2 separate regions of the Homo sapiens genome follow, and region 2 is reported to be linked to region 1. The links are microRNA targets in miRTarBase. Many come from high-throughput screens and were not tested one by one. Region 1 holds a microRNA gene; the other region holds the end of a gene's coding sequence.
What was found. The annotated mature microRNA hsa-miR-208b-3p reads AUAAGACGAACAAAAGGUUUGU and lies in region 1 at 2,621-2,642, shown strand. An mRNA with a match to its seed (bases 2 to 7 or 8) in the 3' UTR can be bound and repressed. Matches are read on the target gene's strand: a 7mer-m8 pairs with bases 2 to 8, a 7mer-A1 pairs with bases 2 to 7 and ends in A, and an 8mer does both.

Region 1 (4,387 bases):
AGAGTCCTTCGACTCTGATGGCATGACTTTCCTCCTTACTCTAGAGCAGAAGCTGTGTTAGGTCTTTAGTTGTCTGGTCAGACAAATACGGCTCTCTCATTTTCAACTTTTGTTATTTTTTTATGACTAAACTGCTTAAAATATCCCCAGAACACAGGTCTCTTTGTCCATCTTTAAGAGCAAGTTTCAACCACTTTCCTTCCAATAAAGAGCATGTAGACTGTCAGGCCCTCGCCTAAAGGAAGGCTCTTCAAACTATCTTCCCCAAATCCTTTAATTCCCACCTCTCCACTGGAAGAGCTAAACTGACTTGCTGTTCCAGAGAAGCCGAGAGCCTTTTAGAGCCGGGGGGATTCCAGTGGAGGGGTCCAGGCGGTGGGTCTGAGCCCTTTGTGTCTGACCAGGCACGCATCGAGGAGCTGGAGGAGGAGCTGGAGGCCGAGCGCACCGCCAGGGCTAAGGTGGAGAAGCTGCGCTCAGACCTGTCTCGGGAGCTGGAGGAGATCAGCGAGCGGCTGGAAGAGGCCGGCGGGGCCACGTCCGTGCAGATCGAGATGAACAAGAAGCGCGAGGCCGAGTTCCAGAAGATGCGGCGGGACCTGGAGGAGGCCACGCTGCAGCACGAGGCCACTGCCGCGGCCCTGCGCAAGAAGCACGCCGACAGCGTGGCCGAGCTGGGCGAGCAGATCGACAACCTGCAGCGGGTGAAGCAGAAGCTGGAGAAGGAGAAGAGCGAGTTCAAGCTGGAGCTGGATGACGTCACCTCCAACATGGAGCAGATCATCAAGGCCAAGGCAGGCTCTGCTCGGCCTCCCCTCCTCCAACTTCCTCCTCCCACCTCCCCTTTCTGTCCATGTAGTGTCTCTTCCTTCATGGTTCATTTTCCCACTTCCCTTCCTCTGCCTGGTTCTCAGATCCCCTCCTTCTTTTCACACCTTCCCTCTTCTTTTCTCCTTCAGTTGCACCTCTTACACCCCTTCATTCCCCCCGCCCCCAACATCCATCATATAACTCTCCTTCCCTTCTCAGGCTAACCTGGAGAAGATGTGCCGGACCTTGGAAGACCAGATGAATGAGCACCGGAGCAAGGCGGAGGAGACCCAGCGTTCTGTCAACGACCTCACCAGCCAGCGGGCCAAGTTGCAAACCGAGAATGGTGAGCCTAGAGCAGGGGCTCCATGGTTCCCACCACAGTCTCCCCAACCTCCTGAGCCACTCCAGCCTCGGGCACAAGCCAATACACGCACACACAGACACAGAGTCTCTCCAGAAAATGGGGCCTGAGGGCTAGAGGAGGAGGTGGGGATAGAGAGGAGTGCTGATCTAGAATGGTGCTTCCCCAGGTGAGCTGTCCCGGCAGCTGGATGAGAAGGAGGCACTGATCTCCCAGCTGACCCGAGGCAAGCTCACCTACACCCAGCAGCTGGAGGACCTCAAGAGGCAGCTGGAGGAGGAGGTTAAGGTAAGGGCTAGACTCGGGCCACCTGGCCCAAGCAAGGAGCACACTGACTAGCCTTGCATCAAATCACTTCCCTTCCCAGCAATAAGGCTGGCTGTGGACCAACAGTTCTCCAAGAATTCTAAAAAGAAATCACAGCCCAAACCCTGCCACATGCCATCTACTCCCCAGGCTGAGGCCCTCTGCTTCTGCTGCATCCCTGGACGGGAGGCAGGGTGTGAGAAGGAGGAGAGAAAATGAACTAGGGAGGCACGAGATGGCCTTGCCCGGGCACGGCTAGGGGATGTAGGGACTGCACAAATGGGTCCTGGGATTTGCAGGGCCACCTGAAAACTGGAGAAAGAAATTCAACTGGAGCCTATTCCTAGCACTTTGCTGGACTCATGAAAAAGGAGAAAGAACATGATTTTTAAAAAACTCCAGGGTTCATACTAACCTGCCTCTTATAGCTCAGTGATCTTAGGTTAGGGAAGTCCCCTAACCTTTCTGAGCCTGTTTCCCTCTCCCCAGCCAGGTAAAATGGCGGTGATGATGACCATGTCTGGTGTGGGGAGGAGCTCAGGGCCAATGGCCATGAAGCTTTTCTTAAATAGTTCACTGCTGTATTGGCATTCTTTGTTATCAGCAAACAGTAAACCATGACAGGTCCACTGGGGGTTTGGACATAGATGAGGCCAAGGGATGATGTTGAGATTGGGGTGAGGAGAAGGGCAAGGGTGGGGTTGCTTTATGGAGAAAGCTGAACCCACCTCCTGGTGCCCACCCCTCCCCAGGCGAAGAACGCCCTGGCCCACGCACTGCAGTCGGCCCGGCATGACTGCGACCTGCTGCGGGAGCAGTACGAGGAGGAGACGGAGGCCAAGGCCGAGCTGCAGCGCGTCCTTTCCAAGGCCAACTCGGAGGTGGCCCAGTGGAGGACCAAGTATGAGACGGACGCCATTCAGCGGACTGAGGAGCTCGAGGAGGCCAAGTGAGTTCTGAGCAGCCTGACTTCTGGCTGAGGCCCCTTTGCAGGCAGGACTCAGCCCAGCCCCAGCCTCAGCAGATCCCACACAGGCGATGCTTAGCTAGTGTTTGACAACACAGGAGGACTCTGCCCCGGCCCCACCTCCTTCTCCTCTCAGGGAAGCTTTTTGCTCGAATTATGTTTCTGATCCGAATATAAGACGAACAAAAGGTTTGTCTGAGGGCAGAGTGCTTCCGTCTGGGGCAGGGCACTGTGGCAGGGAAAGGCAGTGGGGAGGGCTGCAGAAGCCCATACCTCCTCAATGTCCATAGCGCAGAGGCTGGGCCAGGGTCAGAGGGTGCCTGGGTCTCCACGCCCTGCTGGGATCCTCTGCCTGATGTTCTCGGCCCCTGGGACCTGTCCTCAGGCTTCTCCAGCTACACTTCTGAGGTTTCAAGGATTGTCTTTGAGAAGGTTCATGTTGTTTCCTCTTGTCCCCATCCACACCCTCCATCCTCCCCACCCTCTGCCACCCTCCCCTGGGCAGGAAGAAGCTGGCCCAGCGGCTGCAGGAAGCTGAGGAGGCCGTGGAGGCTGTTAATGCCAAGTGCTCCTCGCTGGAGAAGACCAAGCACCGGCTACAGAATGAGATCGAGGACTTGATGGTGGACGTAGAGCGCTCCAATGCTGCTGCTGCAGCCCTGGACAAGAAGCAGAGGAACTTCGACAAGGTGGGCCCTGGGTGGGGGCCGCAGCCAGCATGCAGGGCAAGGGGGCATGAGGGGTTCAGTGAGAGGCCAGAGCCATCCTCCTTGGAGGTGGGGGAGGAGGGCTGAGCCCAGGCAGGTCCTGAGACAGACCCTGGACATGGGGCTGAGGCTGGGGGGCTGAAGAGTGAGCCTTGTCCCCGGGCAGATCCTGGCCGAGTGGAAGCAGAAGTATGAGGAGTCGCAGTCGGAGCTGGAGTCCTCGCAGAAGGAGGCTCGCTCCCTCAGCACAGAGCTCTTCAAACTCAAGAACGCCTATGAGGAGTCCCTGGAACATCTGGAGACCTTCAAGCGGGAGAACAAAAACCTGCAGGGTGTGCTGGGGGCCCAAGAGGCTGGGGAGGGGCTGCACTGGCAGTGTTCCCATATGGTGCCACCCAAGGGCTCCAAGAGGCGTCTGGGCAAAGAGGCGTGTCCCTCCAACTCCACTGGACCTCAGCAGCCCTCAACCGAGTTACCGTGTTCCCCACACAGAGGAGATCTCCGACTTGACTGAGCAGTTGGGTTCCAGCGGAAAGACTATCCATGAGCTGGAGAAGGTCCGAAAGCAGCTGGAGGCCGAGAAGATGGAGCTGCAGTCAGCCCTGGAGGAGGCCGAGGTGTGTGTGTGTGCAGGGCACGGGGTGCAGGGAGCTGAGCTCCAGGCTTTTGGTCCCTGTTCTCATCCCCCGCTTTGTCCGTTTTGTTCACTGTCCCATCCCCAGAGCCTAGGACAGAGCCTGGCACATAGTAGGCATTCAGTGAAGATTTGTGGAGTGAATGAATGACCAGTCACTGAACTCTCTTCACATAAACATTTTACCCATTGCATCTTAGCTGAGCTTCCCATTTCCACATACCTCCCGGTTCCCACCTCTGCCTCCCTCTGTTTTCTTTTATACTCTATACCTGATTGCCTCTGTTTCCTTGGCAACACTTTTCTCTTCATTTTCCTCCTTGTCTTCATAGCTGGCTCTCCCCTGTGAGGGCCTGAATCACTTTCTCTTAGGCTTATTTTTATTTTCTCTTAGATTCTCTTTTCCTCCACCTTCTGCTTCTTTGAACCACTTACACCACTCTTGAAGTCACTTCGTATCCATGATTAGTGAGCAGGCCCCCACCCTGCCCTGTGCCCTGACTGTCTGCCTGCATCCCCTCCCCCAACCCCTTCCCAGGCCTCCCTGGAGCACGAGGAGGGCAAGATCCTCCGGGCCCAGCTGGAGTTCAACCAGATCA
Region 2 (4,343 bases), not on the chromosome of region 1:
AGTCTTCTCTGCCCTTGCGCATGTTCTCCAGGATTCCCCCGGAGATTTACCATGGCTGTCTTTCTTTAATGGGAGATAATAGTTCTGTTTAATTTATTGAAAATATTTGTTAAACATCTAATTTCTGTGAGACGTTAAATGGAGATCGTTCATATTAAACTGATTGAAGAAGTTTGGAAAATAATTGAACTTACATATGTACCTTTGCCTTTTAAATTTTTTATTTTTTAAAATTTTCTTTCTCTAGTGTTCTTTTGAAGATGACAACATCCGTTCCTTATTAAAACCTTTAGAACTGGAACTACAAAAAACAGTGCATACATACTGTGGAAAAATTTACAAAATATTTATCAAACAACTAGCAAAAAGTGTAAGAGATCGTTATGCCAGATCACCAAAGGAAAAGTGATTCTTGGTGACTGCTTAATCAAATGGATGAAAACAAAGAATCAGAAGATAAGTGTGAAGGAATCGTCTTGGATGAAGTATTCAGGAAGGAATTACTCATCTCCAGAATAATTTTTTTTTTCCTAAAGAAGTTAAGTAAGCAGTATTTTCAGGTAATGAAGAATAAGTTAAAATCTTGGGCCTCAACATTGAACATTTTTTATCTCTGATGTTTTGTAATGTTACTTGCTATCATTCCAGTATTGATGAAAATACTATTGAATGGGTTTAACCTGCAGACTTCTGTTGACTCATACTCTCAAGAGTGGTAGGGGTGTGTAGATGGAGAAAATGTACCTCAAACAGTGCCAACACTCAAGACTGTGAGTAGAGCAATAATTTTATGTCAGCACTAACCTCACTTTAAAAGTGTGAGAAAAAAGTTTGTTTACAGGAGCAGAAACAGGTCTGTTGTTTCTGAAGAAATGTGATGTAACTGATGTAACCATTGACAATCTATGTGTGCCTTTATACATTTCATCTCTGTTTTAAAATATTTTTATGACAATCATGTTTAAAATTATTTTTAGATTACAAGTAAGCTGCATGTTAAAAATTGAGCTGTGTAAGGTAGAGGAAAAATAGTGAAAACTTTGGGATTTTAATCTGTGTGTGCGTGTTTGTGTGTGAGAGAGAGTGAGAAATGTAGTGTTTCATTTTGTATGCATTAAACTGTCTTGCCAAAACTCAGATCTAAGATTGTTAAATAGATATTTGGGGAATTTTTTTTTAATCACTTTAAATGAAAAACGTCAGCTTTACTGGGCATTCTGGAAGCAAAATATATTATGCTGATGGTAAAGTGAGAACCTTAAGAGTATACTCATGATGGTGGAAAGTGTGATGGACCAAAATGCATAAGCTATATACTTCCTGTGAGTAGTAATTTTAGTTACAATGGAGTAGAAAAATATGGTCCATTTAAACTTGTCTTCTACCTCATAACGGCCTTGCAAGATACTTTTGAAGAAGCAAATGTCTAGAGCCTTACTTTAAGTAAGTTAAACAACTTAAGTGGATGATTTGGAATAAGATTGTTACATCCAGCTGTAGAAAATGTGGTTTTAATTGGGTTGATGTGCATTTTTGAATATCACCTAAGACAGTTAATTTTTTTAAATCTTGAGAAATTACTTCTTTGGCATTCTTGACCTGTTAGCTAATATAACTATAGATTCTGAATACTTAGCATATACTATGCTGGGGCACATATCTTATTTTACCAACAATATGATTATCTATATGGTTATCTTCTTTTTCTCCCTGATATTTTAATGCTCAAGTAGAAAATGGAAAATCATGAAGGAAAAATACAACCTGTGAAAATTGTGGCAGTTAGCTTTGTGAAGACACAGTGACCTCTGTGGAGACATGGAATATGCAGAAAGAGATGGTTAGTACAGTTGTTCTGTCGTCTGCAGTTCAGTCAGGGACAAATTGAGAGAGGAAAGTTTAAGCAGGGTGCATTAGAAGTTGATAACCAGTCCAGCATTCTTAGAACAGATGGGTTTAGAGAACACGAGTTGTAGTTCCTTGGCAGAATGCCATGGTGAATATAAGAAACTGTGAAATTGAGCTTACTGAGTAGAAAATGAGAATACTAAAAATGTGAAGTTTGGAGGGTATGTATTAGATCATTTCTAATGGTCCTCAAATAATGATCATTGCCTGCCTGACTATGTAAGATTCTTGTTGGGAGCTTAAGAATAGATTCCTGAGCTAGGCCTTTGGAGACTCTGGCATGCTGTGTCTAGGAGGGAGTCTGTAAAACAATTTTTAATGAAGAAATTTAAAAATTACACAAAACTAGAATAGTGCATTGGTACTCAACATCCAGATCTGACACTTATCACTATCTTACCATGTTTGCTTCATTTGTCATTTTTTTGTTTGCTTAAGTATCTTAAAATCCCATACATTGTGTTATTTCACTGCTGTGAACACTTTGGGTAGATACCACGATATCACACCTAACAGAGGCAGCAGCAGTCCTTCGGCTTCATCTCATAGCCAGTCCTTAAGCAAATTTCCCTGATTATCTCAAAAATCATCTTCTAGTTGGTTTGTTAGAATCAACAGAATATAAGTCACATGATGATTTCGTTTTTAACAATCACCTCAGATGACTTTGATGTTAGCTACTTTGAGAACCACTGGAAATTATTTTGCCAACTTGAAAGTTCAAGTTAGGATACCACAATTCTTGGCACGTTTGGTGGATTATAAATGTGATTTTGAAATATTAGAGGAAGCATTTGGGGTTAATGACAGGATATGAATTTATATTAGTAAGTTTGATAAGATAAAATTTCCTCAGTGAACGGAGAATCTCAGCCCCATGGGCTCTAATTGATTGGGACTTGTGTAGAGCGTGGTCACAGTTTAATCCAACTGGACTGTATGCTGTGGTCTCACTCATGTTGTGGCTTATTTACACTGTCACACACACTACATTGTGGATCAGTTGGAAGGTTCTTCATCTGGTTTATTTAGACCTGACCTAATTGATCATTTTACCATAAATTGAATTATAGTGAAAACTGTCTTTTGGGTACTGTTTCTACCTAAAATTAAAGGTATCACAAAATATGTATAATAATTTTTAAATGAATTTTCTGAATTTATCTTTAGACAAGGTAATTCTTTTGAATTCTAAAGAAATGCAGTTCTTGGAGTTGATGAGAGGTTAAATTATAGATGGACAACTTAGAGAACGTATTCCATCTTCATATAAATGGTCTTTCATAAAACATAGTGTATCTATGCAGTTTATATAAACTACATGATTTATTATTTGAGTCTATGTATTCTGACCTCAGAACTATCTCTGGGCTACAGTATTACCAAAGTGGGATGCCTTTAAAATGCAGTCAAACTTCATTTGTATGAAGTAGAAAAGAACTTGGGAAACCTTTAAAAATATATATTGTGATTTATGCTTTAAGAAAATGCATACTTTTTTCTAATGAAGAGTAGTTCATAATATATAAGGGTTTTAAGGCCCTGAAATAACATTAGTGCTTACTCATTGCTCTCTCATCTTGCCTCCAGTCAGATGTTATTGGTATAGTGAAAAGAAGACCAGATTTTGAACTAGATCTGGATTCTCTTTTTAGTAACTCAGGCATGTTATTTACCCTTCTCTGTGCCTTAGGTTTTTAAGTACAATCAGTGTACCCTTCAAACCTCACAAGATGAAACTCAGAAGAGATAATGGATTTGGAAGCATTTTGCGTGGCTTATATTATGCCACGCCAGTGTTACTGTTGAAGTTCTGTTTTGTTCGTTGTTTTCTGTACAGAGCGTTCAGTTTACTCAGGCTGAATGTTTTCTGACATATATCTCCAGTATGAATTTGTTTATGTAAGGAAGAGTTTTTCAGGAAGAGAAAGTAGAGAAGAAAAGAATGATGTAACTAAATCAAAAAAGAAGGAAAAGAGAGGAAGTGAGAAAAGGGGTGAGGAAAGAGAAAGGAGTAAGAATGGGGATGGCAAAGGGCAGAGTAAGAGAAAAGATGGAATGAGTGTATGGAAAATTGAGAAGTAGAGATGGAGAGAAATGGTGTGGAAACATTTACTTTTTGAGTTGTAGCCCTCACACTACATCAGTTTGCTTGCCTGGGCTCTCTGGGGTCAGGAAAGGTGCTGACTTCCATGGAATGGGGCAGCAGGGCCTGCTGTATTTGGTTTGTTAGTACTAGAGTTGTTTCCCAATCACCCTACTCACTGATCATTTAGTGCCAATTCAACATTTTATGTCTTTTTTTTTTAGTGGATCCCAGTTTGTGAGCTAGGACCTGTGGAAATACAAGTATCTTCCTTTTTAACTTTATTGTTTTAGCCATCCCAAGTGTTAGACTGCAAGACTAACTACATATTCCCCAGTGGAGGTTGGAA

Region 2: miRTarBase lists GXYLT1 as a target of hsa-miR-208b-3p. The part of its 3' UTR that is shown has no 7-base or 8-base seed match.

The regions. Positions count from the first base shown.
Region 1 is chr14:23,416,252-23,420,638 of GRCh38, reverse strand. It overlaps MIR208B (microRNA 208b), which reads left to right and starts at 2,576; the gene lies at 2,576-2,652. It overlaps MYH7 (myosin heavy chain 7), which reads left to right. Exons shown (of 40, transcript NM_000257.4): 27 at 405-794; 28 at 1,030-1,156; 29 at 1,344-1,462; 30 at 2,233-2,429; 31 at 2,953-3,136; 32 at 3,321-3,486; 33 at 3,647-3,771; 34 at 4,327-4,387. MHRT (myosin heavy chain associated RNA transcript) reads right to left here. Exons shown (of 6, transcript NR_126491.1): 3 at 4,342-4,387; 4 at 3,631-3,723; 5 at 3,266-3,427; 6 at 3,044-3,106. RefSeq lists an enhancer at 4,194-4,387.
Region 2 is chr12:42,083,852-42,088,194 of GRCh38, reverse strand. It overlaps GXYLT1 (glucoside xylosyltransferase 1), which reads left to right. Exons shown (of 8, transcript NM_173601.2): 8 at 248-4,343. The coding sequence ends at 409. It also overlaps the pseudogene LOC101929308. Among named protein-coding and RNA genes, the nearest start is that of GXYLT1, 59 kb to the left of the region's middle.